Homo sapiens: one gene and its partners. The protein of the gene in region 2 interacts with the protein of the main gene of each other region in a pairwise test. Each region holds a gene or a part of one and is shown on either strand. Other genes may lie near its edges.

The links. The genes of interacting proteins can lie anywhere in the genome.
Region 1: the proteins of PLEKHG4 (region 2) and TFG interact in binary tests that used the Homo sapiens proteins (3 or more experiments, as listed by UniProt).
Region 3: the proteins of PLEKHG4 (region 2) and DTX2 interact in binary tests that used the Homo sapiens proteins (3 or more experiments, as listed by UniProt).

What each region holds. Positions count from the first base shown.
Region 1 is NC_000003.12:100,726,494-100,733,497, forward strand, and holds part of TFG (protein TFG), read left to right. Parts: intron 1-2,218; coding exon 2,219-2,365; intron 2,366-6,014; coding exon 6,015-6,179; intron 6,180-7,004. UniProt on the Homo sapiens protein: Plays a role in the normal dynamic function of the endoplasmic reticulum (ER) and its associated microtubules. Required for secretory cargo traffic from the endoplasmic reticulum to the Golgi apparatus.
Region 2 is NC_000016.10:67,274,894-67,282,570, forward strand, and holds the start of PLEKHG4 (puratrophin-1), read left to right. Parts: upstream 1-4,638; 5' UTR 4,639-4,733; exon of another isoform or gene 4,734-4,982; 5' UTR 4,983-5,151; coding exon 5,152-5,650; exon of another isoform or gene 5,651-5,817; coding exon 5,818-5,913; intron 5,914-5,988; coding exon 5,989-6,112; intron 6,113-6,197; coding exon 6,198-6,291; intron 6,292-6,673; coding exon 6,674-6,751; intron 6,752-6,830; coding exon 6,831-6,944; intron 6,945-7,115; coding exon 7,116-7,214; intron 7,215-7,307; coding exon 7,308-7,456; intron 7,457-7,609; coding exon 7,610-7,677. UniProt on the Homo sapiens protein: Possible role in intracellular signaling and cytoskeleton dynamics at the Golgi.
Region 3 is NC_000007.14:76,457,196-76,464,712, forward strand, and holds the start of DTX2 (probable E3 ubiquitin-protein ligase DTX2), read left to right. Parts: upstream 1-4,513; 5' UTR 4,514-4,641; intron 4,642-4,744; exon of another isoform or gene 4,745-5,416; intron 5,417-6,249; exon of another isoform or gene 6,250-6,349; 5' UTR 6,350-6,514; intron 6,515-7,517. UniProt on the Homo sapiens protein: Regulator of Notch signaling, a signaling pathway involved in cell-cell communications that regulates a broad spectrum of cell-fate determinations.

The sequences.
Region 1 (7,004 bases), on a different chromosome or scaffold from region 2:
CTTAATTAATTTAAACTTAGCTAATTTAAACTTTTAATTGAGTATAATTTGGAGCTTAGTGCTCTTAAACCCACTGAGTAGATAATAACAGATTATAGGCCATACTAGGAATGTAAATGCAAGGTTCTTAAAAGTTCTGGTAAGATGTATCAGTGTGCTCCAAAGACCACCAGGAACACACCTGTAGTTGAATGAAGTTGGGTTTACTGACTTACTGCAGCAAGGGAGAATGAATACCACGGAGAACAATAGGATGTCTTACAAGTATGTTAGAAAAGTATTTTTTTTTGGGCTTGGGTTTGTGTTACCTGATTTTGGATAAGGTTCAAGGAAGTAGAGCTTTGCTCTGCATTGGATGCTCTCAGGAAGTAGAGATGATTCTATGTTTGGGTATCTTATCAAATCTTATCTAGAAGGTGAGAGGAATGAATCTTACTAAATCTTATCTGGAAGGTGAGAGGAATGAATTGAGGCTAAAGCTGCAGTTGGTAAAGTAGTAGCAGTTACTCATATTAGCCAGGATAAAAGGTTGTTTGGTCATTTTTCTGGTGTGGTCAGTGTTCTTGTTTTTGTCTGGAGTTTTGACATGGTTATGGACTGTTGATCTATCACAGATTATAGTCTTGTGTGATGTTGGTGTTCTTTGAAATATTTATATTCAACGGGAGAACACCACAGCCTACCTGTGAGTGCCAGGCCAGCTTCCAGCAACACTAAGGCCTGTCTTACTGTACCAGACCAGTTTCTGGCTGCTAGGAGCTGTTTTTCTCATCAAATATTGGAGAAAAAACAGTAATACCAAGTGAAAACCAATAATTGATGTAGGTAGGAGATTGTATTGAACTTCATAGCTATGCAGGGAGTATGTGAATTACTGTGAGTTTTCTTCTAAAAGCTTATAATTGGTGGTTTGATTTTGAAACATGTTTAACAAAGAATCGCCCTGAACTTTTATTTTCACGTAGATGTCCTTTTCTAATTAGGTGCTTCAGGAGTTTGTATGTATGTATACTGGCAATGTGCAAAGCATTTTAGTTTAATTTTTGAACGCCTGTCTTGGGGTTTGCAATCAGAGCCTTGTGTCACTTTCTTTTTAAAAATAACCTGAGTGGTGACAGTGTTTGTTGCTGAATGAAGGATTTCATTTTTTTCAGTCAACTGAAAATCATTTGGACAAAATGAATAATAAGTGAAGTAATGTTGCTTTCATTAAAAAATCACAACTAGAGATTACCGAGTAATCTCTGGCATTTTGTGGCTTATATACTGTTTCTGGAAGTAACTGCTTTGAAGGACAGTCATGATGTAGATAAGTTCTGCATATATTTTTAAATTTATATTTATTTTTTAAAATTTTTTGAGACAAGGTCTCCCTCTGTCATCCAGGCTGGAGTGCAGTGGAGTGATCTCAGCCAACTGGACTTCCCCTCCCGGGATCAAGCAATCCTCCCACCCCAGCCTCCTGAGTAGCTGGGACTGCAGGCATGTGCTGCCACACTTGGCTAATTTTTTAAGGTTTTTGTAGAGATGAAGTCTCACTGTATTGCTCAGGTTTTTCTTGAACTCCTGGGCTCAAGCAGTTCTCCCTCCTTGGCTTCCCAAAGTGGTGGGATTACAGGTGTGAGCCACCATGCCTGGCCCTGCATATATTTTTTTAACGATTTCTTTTAAGATCAGCTATTTTAGTTAGCTGTTTTTTTTCAAGACAAAGTTATGCAAGAGGGATAACAGACCTATCAGTCATGTTATATCTTTAAACATGTATAGAGTAAGGTATTTTTGTATTATTTTAAGAATAGCGTGAAATAAAATGAGCTTTTTAAGTTATATAATTTTTATTAAATTTAATAATTTCTATTAAATTTAATAAATATTTAAGAACAGCATGAAATAAAGTGAGCTTTTGAAGTTATGATTTTTATTAAATTTAATCATTTCTATTAAAAAGTAGAGCTCGGATTTTCCTACCAAACCTTTTTACCAGTAAGGTCATAGGCTATAGGTATGGCATCAAGAAAGACTGATAATTCTGCTTTTTTTCCAAAATAAGTTATTAGCCATAGAGAATTCTTTTTTTTTAAAAAAAAAGTTACTCCATTACATTGATATCTTGTTTTTGTTTTTTTAAAGGAATTGTATTTATTTTTCCTTGTTGCATATTATTAGTATACTTATTCATGAACTTCTAATTTTAAGCAAATAAATGTTTTTATTTCAGTTAATGGCCAGCCAAGACCCCTTGAATCAAGTCAGGTGAAATATCTCCGTCGAGAACTGATAGAACTTCGAAATAAAGTGAATCGTTTATTGGATAGCTTGGAACCACCTGGAGAACCAGGACCTTCCACCAATATTCCTGAAAATGGTAAACCCTGAATCCATTGTATTCTGACTTATTGTTCTTACGTCTTTTTGGAGGTTTTAAAAAACTCTTTTTAAGTAGGAGAAGGATGGCATCCCCAATGTCACTCTTGTTTCTTCCTCTGCCTCTCTACTAGTATTTATGTCTGTGTTCCTAAACTTTGCTGTTCATCAGAATTACTAGGAGGTTTCATTATACCAATTTCTGGATCTCATCATAGACCTACTGGAGCGTAGCACCTGGAAATCCCATTTTTAAAGTGTTTTTTGGGTGATTCTTTCGCAACTAGTCTTAGACTTTTGGATTTGTTACACAGGTCAGTTTTCAAATCCTTTTGACACATGAACCCTTTTTAGTATAATAGATAAGTAATGAACCTTGGGAATTGAAAATCATTTCATGAATAATTACATAGTGTTGGAAGTATTTTCAACTAAAAATCACTTAGATTAGTAATGTTCATTAAAAATGGTATGTTGTAAATTTGAAACACAGTTTTTAATAATAATTAAAGAAAAACTAATTTTTTCCCCATTGTATAATGACATGTACTGTTTGTGTTAAGATAAAGCAAAATGTGTCAACATTTGGAACTGACATAATTTTGGGACCGAATGTATTTTAAAATGTGGACTGAACTTTAAGTATGTGTTAATGACTTGAAAGTACAGTTAAAAAACTGCTTTCTTCTTTTAAGATTCTTAGATGTTGCATTTAAAGAAAACTCTTATTATTATTTTTTTCTTTTTACAAATTCTTTGTTTGCTTATAATTTTCATAGTTTAAAACTGTCCATATTGTGAAATAGTAATTTAAAAAAAGTCTAGACTGGATGACTGCATATAAAGGGCTTAACATGAGATAATTTTTGTGGATAAATGGTATGTATTCTATTTTTGGCCACTAAATATTTTGGAAGTTTTTGTTTTCTATTTTTATTTTAGTTACAGTTTAAATAAAGATGTATTTTCCATCATTTCTCTCTTCCTGTCTTCTAATAGTCATATGGAATTATGTTAATGATAGATGTTTAATAAATATTTGGTGATTGATTATTCCTAGTTGCACTTCTATTTCAGAACATAATGGAGATTTGCTGAATACTATAATGAGATCCTCTTGGTCACTTTATGATGAAACCTTTTATATTTCAGGTCAAAGAAGGTTGCCTATTCTGAGCCCTACCTCTCCAAACAAAAATTTCCAATTTTAGATCAAGAATCAATGAAAAAGTTAGACAATTTTTCCAGAAGAATTCATAGATGCTGACACAACATTTGCATATAATTTCAGGGGATTTAACCATCTGCAGAATATTAAGAAGTGTAGATGAGAATTTAACCAGTATAGCCAATACTGTTCAGAAATTAGCTACAGTGGCCCACATTCTACTCTAAGGAATGGATTTATGAGTTTTTTGCTTTAGGTGAAACTTTTTCCTCACCTCTTTCTTGCTACTGTTTATACTTTATTCTTTGTGTCTATATTTTTTATACATACTGTTAGCTTTTTACCTATGTTAATGTAAAAGGTGTTAAAATTGGTTTCTTCTCTGCATTTTGGAAATCATGCCATATGTTGTTTTCTTGTATGGCCATTTTCTAGTTATTGTGTCCTGTCTGACATATCTGATGATAAGATGATATAAGAATAATACAATCTGCATTATATTTTTAGAGATAGTTCTTATTTTTTTAGAAAACAAAAACAACAAGAAAACCATACATCAGAAACTGAAATCTAGTCCACAAAATGAAATTGCCAATCAGCTATCAGTGCTATTTAGAACCTGTGGCTTACCCTCACCAAGAAATGTGGCCACCTGTGGTCTTCAGCTCTCTATTACAGCGGTTCTTGGATGCTTGTTTTCCTTTAAGAGGCAAATGATGTGTAAACTACCTTAGATAGAAGATTGACCTGTTGCAGTATCTCCAGCAGCTAATGGAGCAAGTAGTAGGACGTATAGTATGTTTCCTGATGGTTTTAGTTTGTGATAAGTGAAAAGAGGCATAGGTAGTGAGATGTGAGGGGAAACAACTTGTAAGACTGACGTGGTATGCTCTTGGGATTAGAGGAAGGAAGTTGGTAGGGAAGATAGATAACTGGTAGACATGTTTTAAAGGAATACTTCTAGTAGTAGTTTTCTTTTTCCAAACATTTAGAAAATATTAGGGTAGCCTGGAATGGTATGTTAGGAATGAATGAGCTGCCAGCCAGTGTGTGCTGTGGGTACTTATATTCGGTTTAGCACTTAACATTTTTTTCAGAAGATACATTTTGTATTGATTACAGGGGTGATCTAAGAACTGATGTTCATTTACTTGCTTGGTAACAAAAGTGATAATCATTGTCCCTTAATTGAGTAAATGGTTAGCAACAGTCTTTTTGTTTACTTGTTCGTGTTTTTTGTTTGTTTCTTTTGATGTCTTTTGTATCTTGGACTTGGATTCCTATTTGTAAAATGTATGTTAAAATTCTTGAACTCTTTTTCTTTCACAAGACAGTAGTATAAATGCCTGTGGAATATCTTAGTATCCTGAGAAGAAAAGCATGATTTTAAATTTAACCTGCTCATAATATTTGACATTTTGTTTTTCTGTTGTTGTTTTAAACATTTTATTATAGAAAAGTTTAAGTATATAAGAAAGTAGACATTATAATGAATCCCAGAAACCCACATCCAGTTTCAACAGTTACCAACTTATAGTATCATATAATTACACTATACACATTTCCGCCCCTCCTGTTACCCAGAGTGGAGTACAATCTCAGCTCACTACAAACTTTGCCTCCTGGGTTCAAGTGATTCTCGTGACTCAGCCTCCTGAGTAGCTGGGATTACAGGCATGCATCACTGTGCCTAGCTAATTTTTGTATTTTTGGTAGAGATTGGGTTTTGCCAGGCTGGTCTCGAGCTCCTGACCTCAAGTGATCTACCCACCTCGGCCTCTCAAAGTGCTGGAATTACAGGCATGAGCTGTTGCACCCGGCTCCCCTCCTGTATTATTTTGATGCAGATCCCATATACATCATTTCATCTGTAAGCATTTTAATAAGTATTTTAATAAGTAATACATATTAAAATAGAAGGTAGCAAATTCAAAAATGTTTTTAATGTGCTATTTATGGAAGATTATGAATTAATTATGGTTGGCTTGATTTCCATGTAATTTAATAGTGGACCAGTAGACAGTAGAAATAAAATGTAAAATTTGAGATTATAACCTTAGTTCAGTTTCTTTTTATAAAATAAAGCCTTAGTTCCTATAATTATTATTTCCAGAGTGCCCAGTGGGTATCTGATACTAGGATATAGGTTATTGGGCTCCAAAAAAACCAAAAAAAGTAAAATGTTTCTCTTTATCAAGGAGCTTGTATTTTTTTCATCTAATGTTTCTTACAAAAGGAGGTAAATAATTTTTTTGGAAAGCTTTTGTTCATCTTCTGTTTCTTTTTGCCCTCTTCTCCCTGTTACTAGAAGGAAAAATATAAAAAAAATAAAGGAATTAAAATGATCTGTAATCCTATATTCCGACATGCTTAACATTCCAGACTATCATTATACACCTGCATTATTTCCCTTGTACTTTTAGGCCTTACTGAATATAGATAAAAAGGAAACAAGTTTTTGTTTATTCCTCTATTTTTACAGATACTGTGGATGGTAGGGAAGAAAAGTCTGCTTCTGATTCTTCTGGAAAACAGTCTACTCAGGTTATGGCAGCAAGTATGTCTGCTTTTGATCCTTTAAAAAACCAAGATGAAATCAATAAAAATGTTATGTCAGCGTTTGGCTTAACAGATGATCAGGTTTCAGGTAAGTTGGTTTCCAACTCCTTTACACCCTTCGTTTCCTTCATCTTTCCGTTCTTCCCTTTCCTTCTTTCTTTAATTGAAGAATAACTTGGATATGGTGAAGTGCACAAATCTTAAGGGTTCTGCTTAACAAATTTTTACATATGTGTACACTTATGTAAAAGACTAACTAGATTAAGATGTAGATGATTTCCAGCACTTCAGAAAGCTTTCTTATGTCCTCTCCCCAAGAGTAGCACCCTCCCCCTTAAAGAATAAGCACTGTTGGGTTCAAGTAAATTTTTGAAAGTAAAATTTAGAAAGTTTTTAAAAATCTGAACTATTTTATAATTTGATTAGTTGCAGTATTCGAATTATATTTGATTTGTCTTATCTCCTCATCTTAGAGAAATTGAAAATTAAATGTAGATTTTCTTGTTAAATTGCTTGAGTATACAGTGGGTTTTTATATAAATAAGTTTTTAACCTTAAAGCAGTACCTATATTGTTTTATTCTGTTTAACTTTTGGTTATAATTTCTTCATTATTTTTTCCTGCTTTTTCTCTTTTCGGATTCTAATAACACATACATTGGAGAGCTTGATACTGTCTCATGGGTCATTAAGGTTCATTTTTCTTCAGTCTTCTCTCTGTTCTTCAGGTTGGGTGATTTCTGTTGAACTCTTCAAGGTCGCTGTGATTTCTAATATGCTGTGGAACCTTTCTAGTGAATTGTTTAATTGTGCTTTCAGCTCTAGAATTTCCATTGGGTTTTTATAGTTTCTGTTTTTCTGTTGAGATTCTTTATTTTACATTCATTAAGTCTATATTTTCCTTTAATTGTTTG
Region 2 (7,677 bases):
GCAACCTCTGCCTCCCGGGTTCCAGCCATTCTCCTGCCTCAGCCTCCCGAGTAGGTGGGATTACAGGTGAGCGCCACCATGCCTGGCTAATTTTTGTTATTTTTAGTAGAGATGGGGTTTCACCATGTTGGCCAGGCTGGTCTTGAACTCTTGACCTTAGGTGATCCACCTGCCTCGGCCTCCCACAGTGCTGGGATTACAGGCGTGAGCCACTGTGCTGGGCCAAAGTTTTTGTTTTTGTTTTAAGTCCTTTAGACACCAGGGGAATTGGATTTGGGACTGCTCTTATCTAGGGATTTCTTTTTTTTTTTTTTTCTTTTTTTTGAGATGGAGTTTCGCTCTTGTTGCCCAGGCTGGAGTGCAATGGTGCAATCTCGGCTCACTGCAACCGCTGCCTTCTGGGTTCAAGCTATTCTCCTGATTCTCCCACCTCAGCCTTCCTGAGTAGCTGAGATATATTTGAGATATAAGTCACATACCATAAAAATTCACCCATTTTAAGTGTACAGTTCAGTGTTTTGAATATACCCATAGGGTTGTGCAGCCCTTACCACAATCTAAGTTTAGAACATTTTCATCATCCCCCAAAAAACCCTGTACTCATTAGCAGTCAGTCCTCATCCCTGGCCCTCCTCAGCCCTAGGTAATAACTAACCTACTTTCTGGCTGTCTGGATCTGAAGGACTTTTGACACACTTGGAAGGTTATACTTTTAGCCAACTTACCTTTACTTTTTCTGCATTATGCGCAGGGAAGGTGTGATGAGAAGGAAGAGTGACTTGGGCTTTGCCCTTAGGTTGTTTACAGGCCACAGTGATAAGGCCTCGTAGTTAACTAGTCGTCAACAGTTTATTTTTTTAATTTTTATTTTTTACTCTTTTTGAGACAGTCTCAGTCAGGTCACTCAGGCTGGAGTGCAATGGTATGATCTTGGCTCATAACCTCTGCCTCCCAGGTTCAAGCAATTCTCCTGCTTCAGCCTCCCAAGTAGTTGGAATTACAGGTGCCCACCACCATGCCCGGCTAATTTTTTGTATTTTTAGTAGAGACAGGGTTTTGCTATGTTGGCCAGGCTGGTCTCGAACTTCTGACCTCAGGTGATCCACCCGCCTCGGCCTCCCAAAGTGCTGGGATTACAGGCATGAGCCACTGCGCCCGGCCGTAGTCAACAGTTTAGAGTCAACAGCCCCAGCTGTCACTCACAAGTGTCATTCTGGGTGTGTTACATGCTCTCTCTGAGCCTCAGTGTCCTCATCTCTCAAATGAGATAATCATACTCACTTCATAAGGCTGCTGTCAGGATTAAATGACAAAATTTAATGGGAAGAATCTACCCAGGGCCTGGCTCAAGGTAAGGGATCATAAATGTCATTATTTGTCGGGCCGGGTGCGGTGGCTCATGGTTGTAATCCCAGCACTTTGGTAGGCCAAGGCGGGTGGATCCCTTGAGGTCAGGAGTTTGAGATCAGCCTGGCCAACATGCTGAAACTCCATCTCTACTGAAAATACAAAAACTAGCTGGGCATGGTGGTGCATGCCTGTAATCCCAGCTACTCTGGAGGCTGAGGCAGGAGAATCACTTGAGCCCAGGAGATGGAGGTTGCAGTGGTGGGGGCAGATGAACATGGTGGGTTTGACAGGGAGGCAGGCAGGTGACTTGGATGCAGGAGAGCAAGTGCGTCAAGCGCTCATCCATGGGTCCTTGCCATGTGACTGGGCAGGGTGGCCTGAGCTGAGAGAACTTGGCTGGGGTAGTCTTCGTGAAGGAGATGCTGCACCCAGGCCTCAAATGAGGAAGGATTTTGATTAGGGGAGATGGGCATGGGCCTTCAGGAAGAGGAGCCAGTGTGAGACTAGACTAGTAATCAGATTTGTTTTCCAGGCCAGTCTGGGAGGTAGATGGGAAGGCTGTGATGCCTCTAAGTGGCCTTGACTGTCATACCAAGGAGTTTGGAGTTTATTTAGGCCAAAGGCAAGAGAGGTCTGGAAGTTCTGGGGTATTTGTTGCCCTCAGTATTTGGGGTAGTACTGAAGAGGGGTGTGCAAGGTGAATGACTGTGGGTCTGTTGTCACTAGACCCAGTGAGGCCCAGAGCCCTCCCCTCCTTTTTATTTATTTATTTATTTTTGAGACAGAGTCTCGCTTTGTCACCCAGGCTGGAGTGCAGTGGTGTGATCTTGCCTCACTGGAACCCCTGCTTTCCAGGTTCATGTGATTCTCTTGCCTCAGCCTCTCAAGTAGCTGGGATTACAGGCATGTGCCACCACATCTGGCTAGTTTTTGTATTTTTAGTAGAGATGGGGTTTTGCCATGTTGGCCAAGCTAGTCTGGAACTCCCGACCTCAGGTGATCTGCCTGACTTGGCCACCCAAAGTGCTGGGATTTTGTGGCATAAGCCACAGTGCCCGGCCCATTTTATTTTTGATTGAGTCATGTTGGCAAGAAATGGGAGGCTGAGGGAGAGTTGGGGAAGGGCCAGGGGAGGGAGGCCCATTCCCATTTTATGATCTCAGTGGAAAAGGCTGCTGTGAGTTGATTCTGCTGCCAGGAGAGCCACAGAGATGGGCCCCATGAGTCACTGCTCAGTCCTGCAAGCTCAGCCCACAAAGCCTGCTGTGGTCAGCCACCCCTGGCTGGCTCCAGGCCCAGCTCCCCAATATTCCCCACTAGGCCTCAGTGTGTCCTCATTTCTATCTGTACCTTTGCCATCCTGGGCCATGCAACCTGTAGCTCTCGGCCTCTTCTGTCTCCTTTCAGGCTGAGTCTCTGAATCTGTCTCCATTTGTGACTCTGGTTTCCATGGGATACATAGATGTGGAGCCTCAGGAGGGCAGGGGTAGTGTGATCAGTGTCAGGCGCCCCAAAGCATTTATTCTGTGCCAGGCCCTGTGCTGGATGCTGAAAGTACGGAAGTGGATAACATACAGTCTCTGTTTCCATGAAGCCTACAATGCACATTCTCTGTGGAGTGGAGAAACCAGGGCCCAGCCCTGCCTCTATCTCAGTATGGCTGTACCTCCCCTGAATCTGCCTGCTGTGCCCAGGGTGCCAGGTCAGCTATAGCCTGTGGCTTGAGGCTCTTCTTTGCCTCTGGCATTCACAGGGGTATGTGTGCCCGCCAGCAGGTCCCCCCCGGCTCTTAGGGCTCCTGGGGGACTTGGCTGGTGGGTGCTGGTGGGCAGCAGAAGGGGAGGGAGGGAGCAGAAGGCAGTGACTCAGTGGGGGTGGCCCTGGGACAGAACTGGGGAGGAAGCCAAGGTTGGATGATGCTTCCTGAAGCCAGGAGGGTGGGAAGAGAGGTCTGGCTGGGAGTTAGGGATGGAGCAGGACAACTCCAAGGCTCCCCTCTGGCAGCCAGACCTGCTCATGAAGAAGGCTCCTCGGTAGCTGCCTGAAAGTCTGGACTCTGGGGGCTGGGCTGGGCTGGGTGGGGAGATTGCTGTTGGTCCCACTGTGCCTGTTGTAATCCCCAGGTTCATGAAAGAGGTGCCTGCCTTAGAGCCAGGGAAGCCGTTGCACCCGGTGCCCCCTCTCCCCAGGGACCATGGGCCTGGGCACACTGTGGGGCTCAGGGTCTTCTCCTGGTCGCAGAGCTGACCTTCCCACAATCTTCCCACAAATTCTGGGGAGTGTCGGGCCAGGCCCACATGCCCTAAAGGGACCTCAAATCGCACAGCTACCCACTTGGGTAGCTTTCATCAGTTCAGGATTCCCTGACTGCGGGTGAAATGAGGGGGCAGGGCACCAACACAGCCCGAGTGCTGGCAGCGGGTGAACGTATAACACAGGGAGTCTTCCCCAGTCCTCACGGCAACCCCAGGAGAAAAATGACTTTCCATTTTTACAGGTGAGGAGGGTGAGGCTCAAAGAGCAGAGTTCCTGGAGCGCCCCCAGCAGGTAAGTGGAGAAGCCAGGCCTGGGCTGGGGGCTCTGGCTCCAGAACCCCACCTCAGCACCAGCCTCCTGCACCGGACTTTGTGGAGAAGGGGGTAAGGGGGTGCCAGGGATGGCAAAGGGGTAGAGGATCTGGTGGACTCTGGCAGGCCTGGGTCAGCTCCACCCATTGGTCTCACTCCCACCCGGATGGCAGCCCCATCCCACGTGGGATCATGCGACCTGTCTCTGGGTGCCCGCGGCGAGGCAGCACCCCGCTTCCCTACACAGAAGGCCTTCCCCTCCCGTCGGCTCATTCAGCCGCGGAAGCCCCTGGGAGACCCCGCCCCGCCCCGTCCCGCGGTGCCCCCCGCGCACTCACCCTCGCTCACCCACGCGGCCTTCCTGGCGGGAGAGCGCTTCCGGCGTCCTCGCCAGGCCCGGGGAGTGGGCACGGTGGAGCTGCCGACCGTTGGTCGCTGCCCCAACCCACGCACTGCGACGCCGCGGGTGAGGCGCGCGGTCTGCGGGGCCCGGGGGTGCGGCGGGGCGGGGCTGGCGGGCTGTCCGGGCCCACGGAGAGGACGGCGGCGGGCGGGGGTTGCTGCAGGGCCCGCACCTTGTCTTCCGCGCCGGCAGGGCTGTGCCCCGTCGAGACCTGCTCGGGCTGTGGCTCCGTCCTCCGGCCTCCAGGGGGCGGCGCGGCGCTGCGCGGCGCCCCGGCGGCACTGCCCTCCCTTCCCAGCGGCCAGGAGGCGGTGTCCCGTGACGCCGCGCGGCCGCGCTGTAGTGGCCGTCGAGGCCGCCGTCTGTTCGAAGGCTGTCCGACTTCACGGTTCCCCGCGGCTCGGCCCGGGGGCGTGAGTGTCGCCAGCGGGCGACGGGGGGGCGCGCGGTAGGCCCTGCAACAAGGCCAGGGCCTGGGGGGGCCGGCAGGAGAGCGAACCCGAGGCATCGTGGTGCCATGGCGGGGCCGCCCCCACGGGCATGGGCCTGCAGAGCGTGGCCGTGAGGACGCTGAGGGTGGGCGCGCACGGAGCAGAGGCCCACGGGCGTCCGACGGGGGACCTGGACAGAGGGACACCCTTAACGTTATTCCCTCTTCCCAGGCCTGAATTGCAGTTCCTGTGCCCTGGCACTAAGACTGGCACCTCCTGCGGCCCATGCCCTTCGCCTGCATTGCCCACTGAGTCCCACTCGACTGTCTTCAGCGCGGTTCACACTGAGACCCAGCCCTCTCCCGCTGGCCCCGAGCAGGCCCACCTTTAGGAGGGCGTGATGGAAAGGCCCCTGGAGAATGGGGATGAGTCCCCAGACTCTCAGGGCCATGCCACCGACTGGAGATTTGCTGTGTGCAGTTTCAGGGATGCCTGGGAAGAGGAGGAACCTGCTTCCCAGATGCACGTTAAGGACCCAGGTCCTCCAAGACCACCAGCCGGGGCCACCCAGGATGAGGAGCTACAGGGCAGCCCCTTGTCCAGGAAATTCCAGTTACCCCCAGCTGCAGATGAGTCGGGGGATGCCCAGAGGGGCACAGTAGAAAGCTCCTCAGTCCTGTCAGAAGGGCCAGGCCCCTCTGGAGTGGAGAGTCTCCTATGCCCCATGTCCTCCCACCTCAGCTTGGCACAGGGTGAGAGTGACACCCCAGGGGTAGGGTTGGTAGGGGACCCAGGTCCAAGCAGGGCGATGCCATCTGGCTTGAGCCCTGGGGCATTGGACAGCGACCCTGTGGGCCTTGGAGACCCTTTATCAGAAATATCAAAGCTGCTGGAGGCAGGTAAGGAAGGCTGGGCTAGGGAAGTCTGGGAAGGGAATGGGGATGCCTGGAGAGATGAGTGTCAAGACTTTGGAGGTCTCTGACCCTACTCAGGCTGAAGCCCGGGTCCAAGTAGGGGTCTCTGGATAGGTGGTCCAAGGCAGACCCAAGTCATTTCCCTTCCCAAGCCCCCAGTGGATCCGGCCTCCCTAAGCCTGCTGACTGCCTCCTGGCCCAAGACCTCTGTTGGGAGCTGCTGGCCAGTGGTATGGCCACCTTGCCAGGTAGCCAGGCGGGCCTAGAGGCGGTGGAGGTGGAGTGGCCCAATACGGCAGGAGTTCACTGCTTCCTCCCCACAGGGACTCGGGATGTCCAAGGCCGGGCAGTGCTGCTTCTGTGTGCCCACAGCCCAGCCTGGCTTCAGTCTGAGTGCAGCAGCCAGGAACTCATCCGCCTCCTGCTGTACCTGCGAAGCATCCCCAGGTTTGAGGGAGGGGGTTGGGAGACTGAGCCTGAGCCAGCTGTGAGGACTGGGAGTCAGGTACTGAACTGAAGCTCACCCCTTTAGGCCCGAAGTACAGGCACTGGGACTGACAGTGCTAGTTGATGCCCGAATTTGTGCTCCAAGTTCTTCCCTCTTCTCTGGGCTCAGCCAACTACAAGTGAGTACAGGATTGTAGCTCCCCTCATTCCTTTTCTTTTCTTTTTTTTTTTTTTTGAGACGGAGTCTTGCCTTTGTCGCCCAGGCTGGAGTGCAGTGGCGCAATCTTGGCTCACTGCAAACTCTATCTCCCCGATTCAAGTGATCCTCCTGCCTCAGCCTCCCAATTAGCTGAGATTACAGGCACCTGCCACCATGCCCAGCTGATTTTTGTATTTTTTAGTAGAGAGGGGGTTTCACCATGTGTTGCCCAGGCTGATCTCGAACTCCTGAACTCAGGTGATCCTCCCGCCTCGCCTCCCAGAGTGCCGCAATTACAGGCGTGAGCCACCATGCCCTTTTCTGTAGAGTTGGGGATAGTGCTGAGCTCAGGTTCCTTGCAGGAAGCAGCCCCAGGGGCCGTGTACCAGGTGCTGCTAGTGGGAAGCACGCTGCTGAAGGAAGTGCCTTCCGGGCTGCAGGTACTAAGCCCAGTTGGCTAGGGGTAGAGGTGGGGTGCCTCCCCCCAGGCCTGGGTCACAACACCTTCTTCTCCTGTAGCTGGAGCAGTTGCCTTCTCAGAGCCTGCTGACCCACATCCCAACGGCGGGGCTGCCCACTTCGCTAGGAGGAGGCCTGCCTTACTGCCACCAGGCCTGGCTGGATTTCCGAAGGGTCAGTACACTGGGTGGGGCATGGGGGCAGTCATATAGGCAACTTGGGATCATGGAGGAGCCTCTCTGGGGCTGGCTTGAACCAGACAAAGCTGGCTGCAGTGGCCTGGAACCCAGGAAGCCCAGGACCAACACTGCATGCTGCTCCGGTCATGCCTGCCCCTGCTTACAGCGGCTGGAAGCTCTACTACAGAACTGCCAGGCAGCTTGTGCCCTGCTCCAGGGGGCCATCGAAAGTGTGAAGGCTGTGCCCCAGCCCATGGAGCCTGGGGTGAGTGTCCCCTCCCAGTCCCTCCATGAATGCTCCCTGTCTCCCTCCTTCTCTCCCATGGCCACCTCCACAGCTTATTGCCCTCAATCACAGGAGGTCGGTCAGCTGCTACAGCAGACAGAGGTCCTGATGCAGCAGGTGCTAGACTCGCCATGGCTGGCATGGCTACAATGCCAGGGGGGCCGGGAGCTGACATGGCTGAAGCAAGAGGTCCCAGAGGTGACCCTGAGCCCAGACTACAGGTGAGTGCAAGCCCGGCCCCCAGATCTTGCCCCAGCCCACCATATTCTATGCCAGGACTCATCTGGCTAGCTCAGAACCTGGTAGGACTGTGGTGCCAGGACAGGGTGGAGTGGTGCAAGGCAGGGGGTCTAAGATGGTATACCCTACACCAGGACGGCAATGGACAAGGCTGACGAGCTATATGACCGGGTGGATGGATTGCTGCACCAACTGACCCTGC
Region 3 (7,517 bases), on a different chromosome or scaffold from region 2:
GCCAACAGTCACATTCTTTCTTGGGCCACGTCATTCATTTTCAGTTGCTTCAGAGCACTGGTGGCCCCTTGGGTGTGTTGAACAAACCCCAGCCTTTGAGGAGTTCAAAAAAAAAAAAAAAAAAAAAGACACCATCTCTAGGCGGAAAATTTCAGACAAAGAACCCCTGCCAGGAATATTTCCTGCCGCTGCTCCTGCCACTGCCCCTTAGGCTGTGGACCTTTATGCAAGAACGCAAGTGGCAAACTGCCCTACTGTGTATGTTGTGGGGAGTGGGGGTACTGCCAGAGAAGAGAGAGCCCTATTTTATTTTATTTTATTTTATTTTAAAGACAGAGTCTCACTCTGTTGCCCAGGCTGGAGTGCAATGGCACGATCTCGGCTCACTGCAACCTCTGCCCCCTGGGTTCAAGAGATTCTCCTCCCTCAGCCTCCCCAGTAGCTGGGATTACAGGCGCATGCCACCACGCCTGGCTAATTTTTGTATTTTTAGTGGAGACGGGGTTTCCCCATGTTGGCCAAACTCCTGACCTTATGTGATCCTCCCACCTTGGCCTCCCAAAGTGCTGGGATTAGAGGCATGAGCCACTGTGCCCAGCTGACAGCCCTCTCTAAATCTTTAAAAATTCAGTCAGGCGTGGTGGCTCATGGCTGTAATCTCAGCACTTTAGGAGGCTGAGGCAAGAGGAATGTGTGAGCCCAGGAGTTTGAGACCAACTTGGGCAATATGGTGAGACCCTATCTTGACAGAAAATACAAAAATCAGCCTGGCATGGTGGTGCACGCTTGTAGTCCCAGCTACTCAGGAGGCTGAGGCAGGAAGATCACTTGAACCCAGGAGGTCGAGGCTGCAGTGAGCTATGATCACGCCACTGTACTCCAGCCTGGGAGACACTGTCTCAAAAAATAAATAAATAAAATCTTTAACAATTCTTCAGCTTATCCGCCTACCTTCTGGGGCTTCTTGGGTCTCTTCCCAGAAACTTTCTTCGTCTGTAAGCCCGTTTATTGTATGCAATTGTTTAAAAAACACAAATGGGTGCATATTCTCATATTCTCTACCCTCTATTTTGAACGTTCCTTTTTTTTCTTTTTTTCAGACCGAGTCTCAGTCTGTCACCCAGGCTAGTGCAATGGTGCAATTTTGGCTCACTACACCCTCTGCCTCCCAGATTCAAGCGATTCTCCTGCCTCAGCCTCCCGAGTAGGTGGATTACAGGTGTGCACCGCTGCACCCAGCTAATTTTTGTATTTTTAGTAGAGACGAGGTTTCACCATGTTGGCCAGACTGGTCTTGAACTCCTGATCTCAGGTGATCCACCTGCCTCCGCCTCCCAAAGTGCTGGGATTATAGGCATGAGCCGCCTTGCCTGGCTCAAAGTTCCTTTTTGGTTTAACAATAGATCTAGGCCACTGTGAGTCTTCCTCATTCCTTCTAGGGCTACCTAGTGTTCCGGGGTTATTTAACCAGCCCCCTCCTACCAGGCAGTTCTTTTGTCTCTGGCCCTTTGCTACGTATATTAGTTTAAAGTTCACTTTGCAAGTGGCCAAGCCTGTTTCCCTCATTTCCAGGTTCCCAGGGGGCAGACATCCTGCTGCAATTTCAGAAGTCAGCACACTCTTCTCTCTCCTGTCTAAAATACAAAAGTCCATGCCCCCCACTCTCCCTCTTGATACTGTCCTATTTTACTTCTTTTCACAACCAGAACTCTTTATTTTTCCCAAATAAAAATAGTCCGTCTTTTCAGATTTTAAAAATGGAACTCTGGCCGGATGCGGTGGCCCTCACCTGTAATCCCAGCACTTTGGAAGGCTGCAGTGGGCAGATTACCTGAGGTCAGGAGTTTGAGATCAGCCTGGCTGACATGGTGAAACTCTGTCTCTACTAAAAATACAAAAATTAGCCCGGATGCGGTGGCTCACATCTGTAATCCCAGTACTTTGGGAGACCGAGGTGGGCAGATCACGAGGTCAGGAGTTCAAGACCAGCCTGGCCAACATGGTGAAACCCTGTCTCTACTAAAATACAAAAATTAGCTGGGCATGGTGGCATCCGCCTGTAATCACAGTTACTCGGCAGGCTGAGGAAGAATTGCTTGAACCTGGGAGGCGGAGTTTGCAGTGAGCTGAGATTGTGCCATTGCACTCCAGCCTGGGCGACAGAGCAAGACTCCGTCTCAAAAATATATATATATACAAAAATTAGCTGAGTGTGGTGGTGCATGCCTGTAATCCCAGCTACTCGGGAGGTGAGGCAGGAGAATCACTTGAACCTGGGAGGCGGAGGTTGCAGTGAGCCGAGATTGTGCCATTTCACTCCAGCCTGGACAACAAGAGCAAAACTCGTCTCAAAAAAAAAAAAAAGGAAAATAAAAATCCCTGATAAAGGATCAATGACCTTAGGATAATGTCATTCCAGGTAAGTATCTTTAACTGGGTACTTGGTCCTCCAAGATTCAGAGGACCTTGATCCCCCTGAAACTGTATACATAATATTCAACATACATAGTATGTGCACACATGTGCAAACACTCACATTATCTAAAATTCATCATAATCTTACCCCGGCTTCTCCCCACACTCCTCAGATCCTGCTATAGCCTAGTGCATTTTCTCCTTCCTCACTCCCTTCCCTCCATGTGTCCTCTGCCCTGGCCACCAGGAACTTTGTGCTGCCTCCGGAGTGCATGAGGCACTTTCACATCTCTCTTGCTTTACAAGAGCTTCCCTATGCTCCAACTGGCAAATTTCTCTATGGACTGAAAAACCCACATAGCCTTTATCTGTCTTGTGATGTCTTCTCCCCACCCTCAAGTTAGGCATACCCTTCTATGCCCTCCTTTATCCAAACATTTTCCCCACTATATCGTAATTGTGTGTTTAAGTGCCGGACTTTCCAACTAGATACAAAGCTTTCCCAGGAAAGAAATCCTTTTCTTTTCTTCTTTCTTTCTTTTCTTTTCTTTTCTTTCTTTTTTTTTTTTTTTTTTTTGAGACAGATTCCCACTGTGTCGTCCAGGCTGGAGTGCAGTGGCACAATCTTGGCTCAGTGCAACCTCCACCTCCAGGGTTCAAGTGATTCTCTTGCCTCAGTCTTCCAAGTAGCTGGGATTACAGGCACGCGCCACCACACCCAGTTAATTATTATTATTATTATTATTTTTTTTTTTTTTTGAGACGGAGTCTCGCTCTGTCACCCAGGCTGGAGTGCAGTGGCACAATCTCGGCTCACTGCAAGCTCCGCCTCCCGGGTTCACGCCATTCTCCTGCCTCAGCCTCCCGAGTAGCTGGGACTACAGGAGCCCACCACTACGCCCGCTTAATTTTTTTTTTTTTTTGTATTTTTAGTAGAGACGGGGTTTCACCGTGGTCTCGATCTCCTGCCCTCGTGATCCGCCCGCCTCGGCCTCCCAGAGTGCTGGGATTACAGGCGTGAGCCACTGCGCCCGGCCTCCACACCCAGTTAATTTTTGTATTTTTAGTAGAGACGGGGTTTCACCATGTTGGCCAGGATGGTCTCAATCTCTTGACCTTGTGATCTGGCTGCCTCGGCCTCCCAAAGTGCTGGGATTACAGGCGTGAGCCACCGCTCCCGGCGAGAAACCTTTTCTTTTTCTTTTTTCTTCTTCTTCGTCTTTTTTTTTTTTTCTTTTGAGAGGGATTCCTGTTCCGTCGCCCAGGCTGGAGTGCAATGGCGCGATCTTGGCTCACTACAGCCTCTGCCTCCCGGGTTCAAGCGATTCTCTTGCCTCAGCCTCCCGAGTAGCTGGGATTACAGGCACGAGCCACCACGCCCGGCTAGTTTTTTTTGGTATTTTTAGTAGAGACGGGGTTTCGCCATGATGGCCAGGCTGGTCTGGAACTCCCGACCTCAGGTGATCCGCCCACCTCTGCCTCTCAAAGTGCAGGGATTACAGGCATGAGCCACTGCGCCCAGCCAAGAAACCATTTCTGATTCACCTATTCACTCCCGCACTCCCACTACACAGTAGCTAAATAAATAAATAAATATTAAAAATAAATAGGAAAGAAAGAGAGAAAAAAAGAAAAGAAAAAGACAAAAATTTAAATTTAAAAAGGTTGTGCTCGATGGCTCACACTTGCAACCCCAGTGCTTTGGGAGGCTGAATGAAGCAAGAGGATCGCTTGAGGCCAGGAGTTTGAGATCGGCCTGAGCAACGTTGCAGCATTGCAAAACCCCCATCTGTACAAAAAAGAAAAATAAAATTAATTTTAAAAACAAAAAAAGAGAAACAGTAGCACATGTATGTACTGGCACCATGTATGTACTAGTAAAAACTAGTTAAAATTAAGTCAGTAATTAATGAAGGAATAAGTCAATGAGTGAGCAGGCGAAGGAAGAAAACATAGACCGGAGCAGGTGCGCCTTGGGTTGAGCCCTTCCCCGCTGAGCCCCGCCTTCTGCCCGCCCCTGGGCCCTACCGGGACTACATTTCCCAGAAGGCCGCACGCCCCGGGCATGCGCAGCGGCTCGCTCGGAAGCTGCGACGCCGAGTTTCACTCTGGCTGCCTTCTCCTGAGAGTCGGAGCCACAGCCAGAGCCCTGCCCAGGCCGAGCCGGAGCTGCAGCCCGAGCGCGGTGGTGCCCTCAGCCCCGTCCTCTTGTCCTCCTCAGCCTCGGTGAGAGGGCGGGAAGGCCACCTGCGCGTCGCTAGGGCTGCGGTCCCAGGGGCGCGGGGTGGCGCGGGGAGCCGGAGCCTAGCTGGGACCGGAAGGGGGCGGGCGTGGGTGTGAGGGGGACCGACGGCCGGGGCGGCGGGGACACCCGGGGGTCCCGGGAGATCGGGGGTGTCGGGGGGATCGGTCTCCGGGATCAAGGTCCTGAGGGCGAGAGTTGGGGGACTTGGGAGGCGCCGGCAGCTTTGGACGGGACAGGGTGCCGGGTGCGAAAGGGGACGTTCGGATGAAGGCTGAGGGGCTCGCAGGCGGAGGGGCGCGGTTCCGGGTCGCTCGGAAGGCGCGCACCCCTTCCCAAAGTACCCAGAGGAGGGGGTGACGAGATTGCCACCGGCTCCCTGACGAGGGGTTGGTCCTGCTGGGGTCTACCCCCAGGTGAAGGGACTCACTGGGCCGGGGGTTGTACTTTGGAGGAGTTTGCTTCCTAACTCTGCTTCCCTGCTTTCCTGTGGGGGGTCTTCCCAGGAGTTCCTGGGGCCCTGGGTCACTTTTTGGGGTGCGTAAGGGGTGCCGAAAAAGATTTAGAACTCGGTTCCCTTTTCTGGAGCTGCGCTTTCATCGCGACTGTCTCAGCCAGCTGCCCTCCTCCTCCAAGCTGGCTCCACTTCTCTAAGCGCCAACAGCGATGGAAATAAATAGCATGTGTACAGACGCCTGGACCCTTGAGAAACTCAGAATATTTCTGCATGCCTTCCTAGCTCCTCTAGCGCTCTAGAAGGTAGACTTTCTGGTAGCCACCATCCGGGCTTAAGCCATCCGGATAGCAAGCCCTCTGATTCGGTTGCTCTGTGACCTTAAATATTTACCCTCTCTGGTGTGTTGATTTCCTGGATGCTTAGCTGCCAGACTGGCTTATGAAGTCCTTTTAGAGTTTTCTGTAAAAGGGCTCAGGCCAGGCACGGTGGCTCATGCCTGTAATCCCAGCCCTTTGGGAGGCCGAGGTGGAAGGATCATTTGAGTCCAGGAATTTGAGACAAGCCTGGGAAACGAAGAGGATTCCTGAGATCACTGTCTCTATAAAAAATCAGATGGGCGTGTTGGTGGGTGCCTGTAGTCCCAGCTACTTGGGAGGCTGAGGCAGGAGGATCGCTTGAGCCCAGGAGTTGGAGGCTGCAGTGAGCTGTGATCACACCACTGCACTGCAGCATGGGCGACAGAGGGAGACCCCGTCTCAAAAAACAAAAAACAAACAAACTAAAAAAACGAACTTTTTTTTTTTTTTAAGAAAAGGGCTCAGAGCCAGGCGTGGTGACTCGAGCCTATAATCCCAGCTACTCGGGAAGCTGAGGCAGGAGAGTAGCTTGAACCTGGGAGGCGGAGGCTGCAGTGAGCCGAGATCACGCCACTGCACTCCAGCTTGGGTGACAGAGCAAGACTCCGTCTCCAAAAACTAATAATAATAAAAAATTTTAAAAAGAGCTCAGGGTTTTTTTGTTTGTTTGCTTTTTGTTGTTTCTTCAACCATCTCCTTGATTGTTAAGTGGGTGGAGGAAGACTGTTGTACCTCCTGCTCCACCCAGGCTATTGGAAAATAAATCTGGTGATTTTCAGTCCCCAGGCACAGCACACGGATCCAACATCTGTACCTTTGTTTTTACTAACTGCTGTTTCTTAATTTAAAACCTGATCATCTTCTTCCTCGTTGGCAAAGGTGCCTTGGAATTTGTGTCGCTGAGTCAGCAAGCCTTTCAGATTTGCCCGGTTTTTGTTGTTTGTGGTTTGTATCAAGATGGGAACTCAAACAAGTCATTCCTCCTAAGGAGCTGGTGTCTTCATCCAGAAGGGACAGTTTGTGCCAGCTCTCCAGAGAGAAAAGGTGAGAGCCATGGGGACTTGACCTTGCTGCCTTCTCTATCTGGTGCAGAGAAGGTGGGGATTGGGGAGGGTGGAATTTGAGGTCTGCAGGATAAACGTGTGCCCTGGGAGTTGACTGTTGATTGCCACCTGTCTCAAATAAATTGCAGTGGCGTCTTGCCACTGCTTCTCCTGTTTAACTAACTAGTCTTAGAAGATGCTTTCCACTTTAAGACATGCTTTATGGGATAGAAGACACAAGTCACGATTTCTGCATTTGAAGTGGCAGTTTTCATTTCTTTTGTTGCATAAACCCTTACTGGGTGCCAGATAAGATCTCTGTCTTTTGGGAGTGCATTGTTTGGTGGAAAAGACAAAGCAGAGTCAGTGACAAGGTGTTGTCAGTGTGATATATACTGAGCTGGGAGAAATCACAAGGCTCTCCTACCCACATCCAGAAAGGGGACGGTTAGAGGGAAGGTCAGGAAGGCTCCTGGAAGGTGGTAGTTGAGGGGGGTTGTGAAGGAGGAGTAGGACTTAGAAAGTGGGGCACAGTCACCTGGGAGAGGAGTCAGCGTTTGCAAAGTCATGAAGCTACCGGGACACAGCTGGGCTACTGTAAGTAGCTTAGTATGTAATAGAGGAGGCTGGAAAAGCAGGCAGAGGGCTCTGAGCGAGGAGGGTTATGTGGGCCATGCCAAGACTCGGGAGTGGAAGGATTTTAGGAGATTTCTATGAGGGTCATTTTATTAATTATTTTTTTGAGTTGGGGTCTGCTTCTGCTGCCCAGGCTGGAGTGCAGTGGAGTGATCATAGTTCACCACAGCCTCAAATTCCTGGGCTCTGGGGTAGCTGAGGTGCCTACCACCATACCCGACTAATAATTTTATCTAGAGACAGTGCCGCTCTACGTTGTCCAGGCTGGTCTCTAACTCCTGGCCTCAAGGGATCCTCCCATCTCAGCCTCCCAAAGTGCTAGGATTACAGGCCTGAGCCACCGTGCCTGGCCTCGTGAGGGACATTTT